Homo sapiens: one gene and its partners. The protein of the gene in region 3 purifies or fractionates together with the protein of the main gene of each other region. This does not show direct contact. Each region holds a gene or a part of one and is shown on either strand. Other genes may lie near its edges.

Region 1 (6,351 bases), on a different chromosome or scaffold from region 3:
CTTGCCTTGTGAGTGGTCAACACTGCCCAGTGCAAGTGAGGCTGGAAGGCTTTGGGGACCTCCAAGTTTTCAGTAACCCTGTGTTACCCCAAGGGAATTGTTTTGCCCACAGATTTTAGCAGGTTGGAGCTTTCAATCTGTCCTGTTTTGGGGGTTTGTGGCTTAGATGCTGGGATGAGAGAAGCCACCTAAATCCAAAGGAAGGAGTTTGCAGCGTGTTGCATCAGCCAGCCAGCAGACACCCAGCTGTCATTTGCATTCTCAGCAACAAAAGCCTTGGCCCCTCATGACTATGGGTGTCACCTGCCCTGTGTGGCCCAGGGCCAGGTGGAAGCCATCCATGACTGAGTAAAATCAGAGTAGCATCCTGCTCTGCTCTCCTGTTTGCAAGGTTAGGAGTTGGCTGAAAACCAGCTGAAGAGTGGCAAGTGTGAATGCTGTTTGTTGAAGGCTGATGGGATGGTTTTCAGCCATTGGAGTTCTGGTGTGGGCACAGCAGGGACAGTTGCTGGCAAGATGGGTGTGTGTCCTGCCCTGACAGTCACGTGCCTGACAGGCTCTAGACCTAGCAGGGCCACTCAAGGATTTACTGTCCCCTTGGCCATGGGAGATGGGAGAGGGACAGTCTTCCTGTGCAGCTGAGCACTGCAGTGTAGGGGAGAAAGAACTCTATTTCTCCCCTTTTAGGGCCCCAGGCTGGGCGGGAGAATTAAACTGACATAAGCTAAACTAACAGGGTCAGGTGCAGTGGTTCATGCCTGTAATCCCAGCAACTTGGGAGGCTGAGGTGTAGGAGGATTGCTTGAGGCTAGGAGTTCGAGACCAGCCTGGGTAACATAGTGAGACCACCATCTGTACAAAAATTAATAAATTAGCCAGGTATGGTGTTGCATCTGTGGTCCCAGCTACTTGGGAGGCTGAGGTGGGAGGATCACTTAAGCCCAAGAGGTTGAGGCTGCAGTGAACTGTGATGGCACCACTGCACTCCAACATGGGTGACAGAGTGAGGCCCTATCTCAAAAAAAAAAAAAAAAAAAAAATAAAGGGAGATGGGTTAATGGGAGAAAAAACATAGGATTTTTTTTTTTTGAGATGGAGTCTTGCTCTGTTGCCCAGGCTGGAGTGCAGTGGTGCGATCTTGCCTCACTGCATCCTCCACCTCCTTGGTTCAAGTGGTTCTCCTGCCTCAGCCTCCCGAGTAACTGCGACTACAGGTGTGCACCACCACGCCTGGCTAATCTTGTATTTTTAGTGGAGATGGGGTTTCACCATGTTGGCCAGGCTGGTCTTGAACTCCTGACCTCAAGTGATCCAACCACCTCGGCCTCCCAAAGTGCTGGGATTACAGGTGTGAGCCACCGTGTCCAGCCAGGCATATTAATTTAACACAAGTTTTATACAGCACAGGCTCCCTTATAATGAAATGAAGACTCAAAGTGGCAAAATTAAATCACTTATATACTGACTTGGACAAAGACTAGCCACTTGTAAAAAAGCAACTACATGATGTGGGGATGCTTGAAAGAGTTGTTTTCACAAGGTCTGTACCAAATTCTGTCGGCCTTGACTTCCTGTCGTCCTTGATGATAAAATCATTTTATTTGATATGGGGAGGGCGTCTTTCACTTGGGAATTTCATTTGCTTTTAAGAAGCAGAATGGAGGTCAGGGTGATCTTGCACTGTTTTTTGATTTTTTTTAAAAAAGGCCTTGCTCTGTTGGCCCAGGCTGGAGTGCAGTGGTATGGTCATAGCTCACTGCAGCCTCAAACTCCTGGGCTCAAGCGATCGTCTTACCTCAGCCTCCCGAGTTGCTGGGACCATAGGTGTGCACCACTATGCCTGGCTAATGTTTTTGATTTTTAGTAGAGACAGGTTTTCACTGTTGCCCAGGCTAGTCTCGAACTCCTGGGCTCAAGCAATCCTCCCACCTCAGCCTCCCAAAGTACTGTGATTACAGGCATGAGGCACCGTGCCAGGCCTCTTCTGTTATTGTTTTTTTTTTTGTTTTTTGTTTTTTTTTGGCTCACCGCAACCTCTGCCTCCCAGGTTCAAGCGATTCTCCTGCTTCAGCCTCCCAAGTAGCTGGGACTACAGGCGTGCGCCACCACGCCCAGCTAATTTTTATATTTGTAGTAGAGATGGGGTTTCAGCAGGTTGGCCAGGATGGTCTTAATCTCCGGACCTCATGTTCTGTCTGCCTCAGCCTCCCAAAGTGCTGGGATTATAGGCGTGAGCCCCCGTGCCTGGCTTTTTTTTTTTTTTTTTTTTTTTTTGAGATGGAGTCTCGCTCTGTCGCCCAGGCTGGAGTGCAGTAGCATGAACTCGGGCTCACTGCAACCTCCGCCTCCTGGATTCAAGTGATTCACCTGCCTCAGCCTCCCGATTAGCTGGGATTACAGGCGTGCCACCACGCCTGGCTCATTTTTGTATTTTTAGTAGAGACGGGGTTTCACCATGTTGGTCAGGCTGGTCTTGAACTCCTGACCTCATGATCCGCCCGCCTTGGCCTCCTGGAGTGCTGGGATTACAAGCGTGAGCCACTGTGCCTGGCCTAATAGTCGATGTGCCTGAGCAGCATGTTTTGGAGTGGCATGTTCTTAACTCCTTCAAGAGCAAACAGGTTCCCCTTCCCCTGGGGAGGGTGGGTGAGGACACAGGTCTTTTCCTGCCACCCGTTTGCAGGGACACGTGATGGACCGTAGGAAGAAGGCACTGACCGACTACAAGAAGCTGCGGGCCTTCTTTGTGGAGGAGGAGGAGCATTTCCTGCAGGAGGCTGAGAAGGAGGAGGGGCTCCCTGAGGACGAGCTGGCTGACCCCACTGAGCGGTTCAGGTCACTGCTGCAGGCGGTCTCGGAGCTGGAGAAGAAGCATCGCAACCTGGGCCTCAGCATGCTGCTGCAGGTGCGGGAGCCCCGCTGGGTCTGCCCACCATCGGGCCAGGGTGGACGCAGGCAGCAGCGAGCCATTGGGGGACCATTGCCCGAAGTCAAGGCTTAAAAGCCCAGCCTGACTCCCACTGCCGTGGCCTTGCAGGGCTGAATTTCGGGAATGGGTGGGTGGTCAGGGAAGGTGATGGGAAGGGGTTTTAAGTTGAGGAGGGTCTGAGGTGTCCCTGACCTTCACAAAGGAGGGCACTTGGCATCCCGAGTGCCCGAGCATGGAAGGCTCCTGCCTCGCCCTGGGGTCCTGAAGGCAGAAGCAGCCAAGAAACCCAACCTCAGGGCTTTTCTTCTGCCTCTGCCCAGGGCCTGGCCTGAACCCCAGACCCTGCAGCAACCCAGATGGCCCTGAACGGTTCAGTTGCCCGTGCCAGCCATAGGTGACAAGGCTTTGGCCCTGGGGAGACGGAAGTCTGGGCCAGGCCCTGGGTTTGTTGTGCTCAGGACAGTACCTCATGCGCTGTCTCATGTGCGCTCTCTCTTTCGCTCTCTCCTTTTGCCTCTGTCTCTGACTCTGTGTGTCTCTTTCTCTTTTTGTCTCTCTGTCTTTCCCTCTCCCCTCCCATGCAGTGATGGCGCCAACCCGTGGCAGTCCCAGAGCTGGAGGCAGGAGGATGGATCCTCATCTCCATGGGAAGTGTCAGCGTGTGGCTGCCAGGGAAGCGTGGCAGGCGCCTGGCCTTGGGTCCATCTACATAGTTGCGTGTTTCAACAATGTCCATTTATCCTTCACCCCGAGGCGTGTTTTGGGGGCTGCAAACACCTCCCGGTAGAGGCTGGACCTGAGGACCCTTCCCACCTGTGCCCGTCCCTTCCTGAAGTCCTAGCCACAGCCCATCCTCCATGAGTCCCGGCAGCTCTGGGTCATGCCCTTCCCTGGTCACCCATCTGCCCCTCACCTCGTCATCCAGGGACCCAGACCCTGCACCTTCCATGTGGGCCCACAGATCCTTGGCAGGTACCTGAGGTGCACCATTGAGTGTCGGATTTGGGGTTAGCATCCAGAAAGAAGAATGCGCATGACGCTCTGTGAAGGCTGGAACTCAGGTCTTCAGGGAGAGAAAGGAAGACTGGATTGCACCTTGATGCCTCCTGAGGAGGCGGCCCCCCTCTTGAGGTGGGCGTGGGCCCGGCCCAGCCTTATCCAAGTCGCTCTGTCCACCTCCCCCTTCCTGGCCCCCACCCCACTCCTGTGCCTCCCAGGAGCCCTCCCTGTGCTCCACCTGCCTCCGCAGAAGGAAGCCTCTTTCTCTGTTTCCCTGGGTGAGGGGGCTGGCAGGTGGCTAACCCCATTTAGCATCTCCAGGCCCTGCCATCGTGTCTCATCTTGCTGTTATCTCTAGCTCTTTCCCTCCTCCCATTTCCTTTAGTAGTTGAATTTTGCAAAGCTTGTAGCAGTAGCTCAGTTGCCTGCAGCATCCTTGTGTGTAGATAAATTAGTCGACAGAAACTCAGCACTGGGGACAGGATTGCAAAGTCGGGGACATAGATGCAGACAGTTGTTGAGATTTGGGGATAGCCGGGCTTGTGAGCGGTGCCCATTTCCAGATGAAGCCTTTCAGCCCTTCTGAGTCCCCGGCCCTTGGTGCGATGTCTGTGAGTTTGACCTGCCCAGCGTGTGGGCTGGCTCAATGCTGAATAAAGTGGGTTTGTGTCAGCTCGTTTGCTTCGTCTCCGTGTGTCCACCTGGCCTCTTCCCCCTGCCCTGGCCACCCTCCAGTGTCAAAGGAAACTTCCTCGTGACACGTGCTAAAGCATGGTGAGGAGGACTTTGATTGGGACCATTGAGATGGGTGTGGGACCCTTTCCTTGGGGCCTGGGGGGAGATGGGGCTCCACCCCGACGTAGCAGGGCAGGGGTTGGAGGAGCGAGGAGCAGTATAGGGTCCATGGGTGGGAATGACTGTGAGGAGACATCAGGGCTGAGGGGGCTCTGGCTAAACCCACCTCACAGAGTCCTTGCTGCAGGCAGGCAGGGCGATCAGACATTGGCTGCAAACGGTCAGAGAGGAACCCAGTCAGGTACCATTGAGGGTGGTCAGATATTATGGTTAACCAAATTAGGGTTCTTGCTAAAACTGGATTTCATAAGAAAGGGCAAAGAGGGCCCTAGGAGAAGATTCCAGAGCCTGGCCAGAGTTTGGCCAAGTAGAGAATCTTTGTCAGCACGCCAACAACATCCCGACCCTGAGACCTCCAGTTTGTCTTTCTCACTGTCTCCGCCTGCTGCAGTCTGCTGTCATCCCTGAGCATCCCTGCCCCTGCCCTGCACACCTGTGATGCTTGCCCGGACAGGTCCTGATGGCAGAGTCTCCCACAACATCAGTGTCTCCACATCACCAGGTCCGACAGTGGCTTCACCATCCTCACCTAACCTAGCTGACCAGCAACATCCCACCCTGTCAATCACAACCTCTTTCTATTTAAGAAAATTATATATTTATGGGGCACAGTGTGATGTTTTGATATCTATGTACATTGTGGAGTGACAGATTAATGTATCCATCTCATGTTTTTTTTGGTGGTGAGAATATTTGAAATCTACACTCAGCAATTTCAAATACAGTCATCCCTCTGTGCCTAAGGGGGATTGGTTCCAGGACCCCCTCATGGATACCAAAATCTGCAGATACTCAAGTACCCTGCAGTCAGCCCTCCCTCTGCACATATGTGGGACAGTCAGATACAGAGGGCCAACTGCGTACAGTACACGGTTATCAGCTGAAGTCACCATGCTGTGCAATAGACCTTGAGTTTATTCTTGTATAGCAGGGACTCTGTACCCTCTGACTAGAATTTCCCCAAATCCTCTTGTCTCAGCCCCTGCTAACCACCGTTCTACTCTCTAATTCTATAAATCAACATTTTGATTCCACATATAAGTGAGATCATGTGATATTTGTCCTGTTCCTGGCTTATTTCACTTAATATAAATGTCCTGTAAATTCACCCATGTTGCAAATGGCAGGGTTTCCTTTTTTATGGCCAAATAGTATTCCATGATGTGTATACACCACATTTTCTTAAGCCATTTATCCACTTTATCCCTTTATCACTTTGCTTCTAGACCACGTAGGTTGATTCCGTATCTTGACTGTTGTAAAAGTGCTCTTAAGAAACACAGGAGTGTGGGTATCTCTTCCATATATTCATGTCGTTTCCTTTGGGAAAATACTTAGCAGTAGGATTGCTGGGTCACGGTACTCTTTTTAAGTTTTTGAATAACCTCCATATGCTTCTCCATAATGGCTATAATAATTTACATACTCACCAACATTTATTTTCTTTGAAATTAGTCATTCTAAGAAGTGTGAGATAATCTCATTGTGATTTGGTTTACGTTTCCCTGATGATTAATGATGTTGAGCATTTTTTTATATACCTGTTGGCCATTGGTATGTCTTCTTTT
Region 2 (5,456 bases), on a different chromosome or scaffold from region 3:
TGTGGACATCGATGGCACCACCTATGCAGGTGAGGCCCTGGAGCTCTGGGGGAGGCCCACGTGGCCGCAGCTAGCCACAGGGCAGCTCTGCGGCTGGCCCTGCCTCTTACCCTCTGTCTGAACACCTCCCACAGTGGCTTCCTTTTTCCTGGTCTCAGAGTTGCAAAGGTCAAGTGGTCCTCTGGACTAGTAGACTGTGGATTGTTAACAGGATGATAGGTCCCTCCCACTTTGGCAGAAACCCTTCACCTAACCCTTTTAGACCAGTGGTTGGCTCGTTAATTGAAGAAGTCAGTCAGTGTCCCACAATCCCCAGGTCTTCTCATGCACAGCCTTTCTCTGACTGTAATTCAGCTCTTCTCTTCCTTTTGCAGACTGAGACACAGGCAAAGGAACCCCAGTATAGGAGAATCAGCTTACATTGTTAAGCTCCCTGCCCCCCAGTCTTTTACAGTTATCTTTTCCTAAACCTAATTTGGCAACAGTGTTTTGTTGGTTGGTTGATTTCGCACCTTTACAGAGTCTTTCTAAGGGTTTAACTTAGTATTCATGACTGGGCACGGTGGCTGATGCCTGTAATCCTTGCACTTTGGGAGGCTGAGGCAAGAGGACCACTTGAGCCCAGGAGTTTGAGACCAGCCTGAGCAACATAGCAAAATCCCAAATCTACAAAATACAAAAAAAAATAGCCAGGCATGGTGGTGCACACCTGTGGTCCCAGCTACTTGGGAGGCTGAGGCCAGGAGGATCACTTGAGCCCAGGAGGTCGAGGCTGCAGTAAGCCGTGATTGTACCACTGCATTCCAGCCTGAGTGACAAAGCAAGACCTTGTCTCAATTAAAAAAAAAAAAAACAAAACTTAATATTCATAAAAACAGCAGTCCTTTTCCCATTCCCATTTCATTGGTTTACGGACGAGCTTGGGAACAAGCCCACCTGACTCTTGTTAAGCACAGCATTGCTGGGCGCGGTGGCTCACGCCTGTAATCCCAGCATTTTGGGAGGCCAAGGCGGGTGGATCACGAAGTCAGGATATCGAGACCATCCTGGCTAACACAGTGAAACCCCGTCTCTACTAAAAATACAAAAAGTTAGCCAGGCGTGGGGGCGGGTGCCTGTAGTCCCAGCTACTCGGGAGGCTGAGGCAGGAGAATGGCGTGAACCTGGGAGGCAGAGCTTGCAGTGAGCTGAGATCGCGCCACTGCACTCCAGCCTGGGCGACAGAGTGAGACTCCGTCTCAAAAAAAAAAAGCACAGTATTATGAGTGGGGGCCACCAGGCCTGGCCCAGGGCATCACCCACCTGTTTTACCAAGGGCCCAAGGGCATGCGGAGTGTCAGCCAGCCTGGCAAGGTGTCTCGTGGAGACAGGCGAAAGCCCTACAACTGCACCTTCTATCACAACTGGGAGTGTTTCCTCAGGGCCTACTCCCATTCTAAGGGCCACACTCCCTCAGAGCACCGCCCTGCAGGCCTCCTGGGAGCATGCTCTGGATCTCTGCTGGGCCACTCACTTCAGAGAGAGGACAGAGTGTAGAGGAGCAGTGGTGCCAAGTGGGCTCACCAGTCATGCTATGTCTGCAGACTCTGCTCAGAGGTCTCTACCTGTCACAGGAGGCCCCTGGAGGAGGTGGGGCCTGGTGCCCTTTGCCTCTTCATTGTGCTGTGGTTTGGGAGGGTTGGGGGTTGGAATTAGGTCCATGGAGAAAGCAGGGAAGTAGGAATTCAAGGCCTGGATCTTGATATCCTTTTGTCCTCTGTCAAGGAGAAAGGAGAAGGTAACTCCTTCCCTCTCAGAATGAGGAAGGGTCAGAAGTTGAAGGCTCCTCAAACCCCTGACAAGAAGGGAGCCAGTCACCCACCCCACCTGGCTCTGTCACCCAGGCTGGAGTGCATTGGTGCGGTCATAGCTCACTGCAGCTTCAACCTCCTGGGCTCAAGTGATCCTCCTGCCTCAGCCCCCTGAGTAGCTGGGACTACCCATGCCCAGCTAATTTTAAAAAAAATTTTTATAGAGACAAGGCTCTTGCTGTATTGCCCAGTCTGGTCTCAAACTCCTGGCCTTGAGCTATTCTCCTGCCTCACCCTCCCAAAGTGCTGGGATTATAGTTGTGAGCCACCACACCTGGCCTTGGTGTTCCTCTTTGTGTACCCTGGGTACACCTTGTCTCAGAGCATTTATGACATTTTAGCAAAATTACTCTGTCGACCTATCTGTCCCCCTCCCCAGCCCATCAGCACTTCAAGGCAGGACAGCATTTGGATCTTCTCCCATCACCCCCTAGCACAGTGTCTACAGCGGAGTCAGGCACAGGCTAGGCCAGCGGTGAATACTTACTGAAAGGAGCTGGCCCTCCCCTTCGCTCTTCCTCTGCCCACACTTGCTTCTCTTCCACCCACCAAGGTGTGCTGTTTGCCCAGAAGCCTGTGGTCCACCTCATCACGGGGTCTGCTCCCCAGAGCCTCGGCAGCAGCGCCAGCAGCAGCAGCAGCTCTCACTGTTCACCAAGTCCTACCTCATCCCGGGGCACCCCCAGCGCAGAGCCCTCCACCAGCTGGTCCCTCTGATGGGCAGGACCCAGCTTCCCACTTGCCACTCTCCTGTCGAGAGTGAAGGAAGTTGATGCACAGAATTTACCTCATCTCACAGAGCCCACGTCGACGAGCACCATTTGGCCAGACATTGAGAGTTTGGACGTGTCCGTCTGTCCAGGCTCCATTCAGGTCCTGCTGTACTCTGGGGGCAGGGAGAGGCTAGAGGGGCAGGACAGACAGCGTTGTCCAATCAGGGATTGTCCTGGAGAACTGGGTGGGGGTCTGTGGGTGTCCAGCTTCCTCCAGGGTTCCCCAGCCACCTCCCAGCTCAGGGCACAGTGTATCGACAATCTGTCAGCCGACGCAGGGCTGGAGGCCCTCCATTTCCCTCCCCTTTTAATTTATTTCCCTGACCCTGCCTTCTGCCATGACCCCAGGGCCACTAGTCTCTTCCCCTGTTTTTAAGTCCCATGTGGGGCTGCCAGGAGCCAAGAGCATGCCTTCATGCCCTTCTCTGCAGAGCATGGGATGGGGCCCTTCCAGCCCACTTTGCCTACTGTTAGGTTCCTGGGGTACGGGTCCCTCAAACACAAGTCTTGAATCAGTCCTCAGGGCCCCAGATCCCCCTTCTAATAGTCTGAAGGAAGAGGCTGTGAGGGCAGTTCAGGGCCAGGGCCCACAGGGCATCTGCTGATGGGAAGGCAGAGCCTCGGGGCTGCCCAGCCCTGGCACCTGCTTCACACGGACCATTCTCTGACCGCCCCCGCCAAACCTCATGCTCCCCACTTGCCCTTATTGGCCTGCTTTCCCAAAAACAGCCCACTCATCCTTTCCCCAGCCCTCTTCAGCCCTCCCCAGTCCTCCCCAGCCTTCTTCAGCCTTCTTCAGCTCAGCCCTCTTCTATTTCTTATGGGGCCATCTTGGCCTCACCATCCCCACACGTGCCGATGTCAGGTTCATTGAAATACCTCAGATTTGTAATTGTTGATGTTTGAGTCTTCAGGAAGTATTTGCATCTCTGAAATCTTTTTTATATGTGTTTTGCTGACTTTTGTTTTTTTTTTATTTTAAAATTTTTATCGTAGCACCAAAGAAATGAAAACAGATCACCCCCAAAGCCAAGCAAGTGATTGGGTAACCCGGCCCCTCTGGCCCTTCCCTCAAGCCCAGTGAGGAGGTGGGTGGAGGCATGCAGGGGAGACGACTCAGGGATCGCGGGGGCGGGGAGGTGGAGTGGAGAGGCCCGCTCTCACACCGGGTCGGGCCCTGAAACTGTACCAGTTCTGAAGACCGTTTTCTGCCACACCCCCACCCCCAGCTGACCAGGGAGGCAGAGGACACCTCCCCATCACTCAGCATTCCCAGCTCAGGGCACAGGCAGGCTGGGGTCCTCGCTGGCCTTGCCAGAGGTTGAGCCGCCCCAGGGTATGAGGAGATGAATAACTCCACAGCTCCTCCTGGACCCTGCGCGGGAGCAGGCAGCTCCTGTGCTGTAAAGAAAATTGATTCGCTTGCGGCTCACCTCAGTCGAGGAAGCCCTGGAATGTTCAGCAGAACACCACCACTGTGACATGGGGCTGTGGCAGTGGGAGACACCGCGCGTGGCGTGGGTGTGTGTGGCAGCGTGGCTCGCATTCAGTCCTGTGTAGGAGAGGAAAGGGAATCAAAAGCTTGAGCACAAACAGATACCTCAGCCCGGTAAGCTGCAGCTCTGCTCAACTGCGTCTTCTCTCAGCCCTCCACACACACTCACCCCCACTCCCACACACATACACACACACACACACATACCCCATCTCCCGAGGGCTGACCTCCTCTGGCCTCAGCCTGCAGGGTGTGGGCAGAGAAGGGCATCTGGGACGTGGTGCCAGTGAGGAGCCCAGTTGGCTGGCACTGGGCCCATTTGAAGGTGTCTCAGACATTTGGCCAGTATGTCTTTCTCAGGGGTTTGGTCACAAAGGATGGACTCTTCCCACCCAGAGGATGCAGGGAAAGCACACTGTGTCTTTCCGGTCATTGGATCCTCTCCCTTTCCCCAGGCAGCTCGCCTGGCCACACCGTTGGAGTGAACCCTCACTGCCCTCAAGGACAACAGCAGGGTGTCACCCAGAGCCCGATGAGGGGTGCCAGCAGGTGCCCCCACGAGTGGGGCCTTGGCCCAAGCAGAGCTTCCCCTGAAGGTGCCATCAGCCAGGGCAGCTCTGTCCCCTCCTGCTCTCCATCTTATATGTATTCTAACCAGGAAAAATGTGATAGCACATGGGTAGCCTAGGCAGTGAGTAAATACCTCAGATGTCCTCCTGCAGCAAGTGTCTATATGTTGTGGTTATTTTCTATCTTACATGTTCTCGAATGTTTATATTTCAATAAACCTCTACCTCTTCACACAAGCAGGTCTCTCTCAGTTGCTTTGAGTGGCCTTTCCACTGGACAGTACTGGGGAGAGGTGAGCTCCTTCAGAGTGAAAGGGGACTGAGTGAACTACTCCTGACCCCTTGATTTCTCCTGAACCTTCTCCCCTTCACCCACGCCTTCTTCAAAGGGAAAGCTCACTGAGCTCACTCTCAGCTAACCTTGTGTGTTAGCAGGTTTCTCTGGCGTTACCCCAGAAGCTCCTAGAAAAGCCTGCCCGGCAGCAAGCCACAGGCCCCGCCACGCCATTGGCCAGGATTGAGTCACGTGCCCTCCCCAGAGCCAATGGGAGCGAGGGGGCAGGGTGACCGGGAATGACCTTAGACTGCCCGCCCTGCGCGGAGGGAGATCCACTACAGGCTGCGCCTCTGCCCCTGCGAGGGGCACCCCTGGGTCTCTGGGAAACGGAATGGAGGGTCTTATGGAAGAGAAGGTTTGGAACCACCGCTGGAGGGAAGGGGAGAAGAAAGCAAGCAGGAGTGGCGCGAACAGGAAGGGACTAGGGATAGA
Region 3 (2,920 bases):
GAGATTTTGTCATCCTTGTTTTAAAGATGAGGAAACAGGCTCAGAGAGGTGCAGTGAGTTGCCCAAGGTCCCACAGCAAGTCAGTTGACAGAGCCAGGATTTAAACTCAGATCTGGGCCCTGAGTCCACCCTTCTTCTCTGTGCCTTTGAGGTTCTCTGGGGGGCAGCAGGGTGGGGCAGGCCCCCAGCTCAGCCACCTCCCATGCCCTCCTCTTGCAGGTCATCCTTTTTCAGTACTAACGCTGCCGGCACTTCCGCATCTGCCCGTGGGCGCCCCACAGCTGCCCCTCAGCCGCTGAGATCCAGTGTCCAAGCTGCGGCCAGGAGTCCACCCACCTCCGCATCCACCCCCGTCCGCCATCCTGCCCACCACCAGGTCGGTTCCCGAGGCCTGGCCTTTCCCTCTCCTGCTGAGAACCAGAACCCACCAGGAGCACCACAGAGTCCTCCTCTTGGAAGGCAGAACTCCCTGAAATCTGGAATCAGGGTGGAAACAGCCTGTTTTTCCCATTTAAACAGGAGTCCTCTTCAACTTCAGCTGATTACAATAACAAAAGGCGGAATTGAATTGTGCGATGCCAACGGCCTTCTCATTTACAGGTTTTTTTCCCCCACATTGGCCTTTATTTACTACTTCCTTGGAACCATCTCTGAATTCTGAATAGCTGACAACCCCCAATGTTATCCACTCTGTTGCTTTTGTCTGGAAAACTCTACAGTGTTTGTGGGATGTCCCCAAAGGAAAGCTATGTTCTAATTTTATCATTTCCATCTGTCTGGTTATGTCAAGTTAATTCAGAAAGAGAAGAGACAGTGACCAACCCTGAGAGGCCTAATAGGGCAGAGATGGAGGCCTGCCCAGACTAGGAGGCAGCGGGGATAGACAGGGAATGGGGAGAAGAAAGACCCCCATTGGTTTGGAAATCAAGGAGAGGGCGGTGACATATTGGACCAGAAGAGGCACTAGCCATTTTAAGGAGAGGAAAGAGAAAACTCTGGGGTCAGGGAGAGACCCTACCCCCACCTAATTATCCAGCATATATGTAAGAAACATAGCAGCGATGGTATTCGATCTGTGCCATGACTCTTCTGAATGTTTGGACAGGTTAGAGTTGGGGACCCCTGTTGGCCACTTGTTGACCTCTCATAGTGGTGCTTGGGCCAGGTCTTCTCAATGGAAGGGGAATCCCTTATAGGGGAGAGGGAACAGAGCCCAGTGAAATGGCAGTCAGAATGTTAACCCTGGATCCATCTCTAAGTAGAGAGAGGGTGCCCATTGCCTAGGTGAGTGTGCCAAGCTCAGGATTCCAACTGGTGCCTCTGAGCTTCCCAATCAATACTTCCTGGAGCCAGCCCCACCCACCCCTGAGAACAGAGGTCAGACACAGCTGCGTAACATCCATCCTGCTACAACTCTTCCACCCCAAACAAAAGGGCTCAGGCTACACACGACCATGATTTATGTTTTCAGGGGATGCCCATTTGTCCCAAGCTTATCCTGTAATTCTAGAATTACCTGGTGTCCTGATGCATTTTCCACTAGAGGTTGCTAATCAGCATGTTTTAGCCCAAGTCCGCCTTCCTGCTGTGGTTAACCTGTTATGTTGCTTTTGGAAGGAGACTCTAAGACAGGGAAAGCAAGTTCATGGTACATACGCAGCCATTGTCTCTGTTTTTACCCATGGCAGACATTGCTAATCAATGGCAGCTCTATTTCACTGAGTCTGGATAAGGTTTCAGAGTTCAAATGCTTGACGTTGGCACTTAACATGAAAGCCTATAGGTCATTCTTGCTCTGGGATCTACAGGCAGGGTAGGCACAGGTGCAGCCTAAGAAGGGAACCTGCTTCCTCTCCCTTCCAAAGACAGTGACAGCTGACTGAGGGCAAAGAGCAGGCACCACTCAGAACGTGGTGAGTACAGCTCAGCTCAGCACTCAGTCAGTGGTAACTTGTGCCCAGCCCTGTGCTAGGCGCTGACATTAACAGGAGCAACCAGGGCCCAATTCCTGGCCTTGGAGCTCAAATCTTTCCTTTGATTTTTGCTCCTGATCATCAAGGCCCCAGTGGCAACCATGTGGTAAGTGGCCAACCAAGCCCTACCCAGGGTCACCCAACACACTCTGCCTTGAGCCTCTCCTCAGGGTCTATTCCTTGCGTGGATTATGTGGCCGTAGCATGTTACAGTTCAAACATGTCTCCACTACCCTGTTAAGAGCAGCCTGGGAACGTACAGGCCATCAAGACTATTTATTTAAATACAAAAAAAGGGGAAAACACACACACGGAAAAAAAATTGTAAGCACTTTTTTTGTAAAACCAATGTCTGTTTTGTTACATACCTTTCATGTCGTGCTTTGTAAATGTCTTATTTGTGTAATAAAGTTAATGCAAGTAGAAGTGCTGGCACTGAAATCCAGAACATGATGGGATTCCATTTCTTTCCTGCTCTCTGGTGAAGGGCTTAGGTCCCTGGCTCCCAGAATATGTGGGCTGCTGGACAGTGTAATCCTCCTTCCTGGGAAACGGGTACCATTTCCCAGTTAGTAAACAATGGATTGTGGAGGCCTGACGATGGGTTTCTTCTGTAAGTACTCAGTCACACCTGCTTCTTATCTAAGCTTTGGAGGAAATCAGGCTGCTTGATGCCCTCTGTTCCAGTCTCTGAACATACACTCTCTGCTGGGCCCTGTGCTGGCTCTGCACACTGAGAAAAGGCTCCCAGCCAGACCTTGTCCTGGAGGAGCTCTCAGTCTGGCAAATACTGTGGGAGCCAAGGGGGTGGGTGTTAAAGCTGGATCCTATCAGATGAGAAGGTCACAGAATAGGTAAGCAAGAGGGTGGGGCAGGGAGGGAGGTGCAGAGGAGCGTGTTTGGAAGATGGGGAAGAATTTAATAAGGTGAAGTTAAGGGAATATGGA

What was found.
Region 1: the proteins of LHX6 (region 3) and RNF187 purify together in Homo sapiens (affinity purification with mass spectrometry; 3 studies listed by BioGRID and IntAct, with this or other methods). This does not show direct contact.
Region 2: the proteins of LHX6 (region 3) and ARID3B purify together in Homo sapiens (affinity purification with mass spectrometry; 3 studies listed by BioGRID and IntAct, with this or other methods). This does not show direct contact.

Annotation. Positions count from the first base shown.
Region 1 is NC_000001.11:228,490,370-228,496,720, forward strand, and holds the end of RNF187 (E3 ubiquitin-protein ligase RNF187), read left to right. Parts: intron 1-2,683; coding exon 2,684-2,905; intron 2,906-3,513; coding exon 3,514-3,516; 3' UTR 3,517-5,819; downstream 5,820-6,351.
Region 2 is NC_000015.10:74,593,208-74,598,663, forward strand, and holds the end of ARID3B (AT-rich interactive domain-containing protein 3B), read left to right. Parts: coding exon 1-29; intron 30-2,403; coding exon 2,404-2,567; 3' UTR 2,568-4,924; downstream 4,925-5,456. UniProt on the Homo sapiens protein: Transcription factor which may be involved in neuroblastoma growth and malignant transformation. Favors nuclear targeting of ARID3A.
Region 3 is NC_000009.12:122,202,080-122,204,999, reverse strand, and holds the end of LHX6 (LIM/homeobox protein Lhx6), read left to right. Parts: intron 1-219; coding exon 220-240; coding exon of another isoform or gene 241-299; 3' UTR 300-2,418; downstream 2,419-2,920. UniProt on the Homo sapiens protein: Probable transcription factor required for the expression of a subset of genes involved in interneurons migration and development.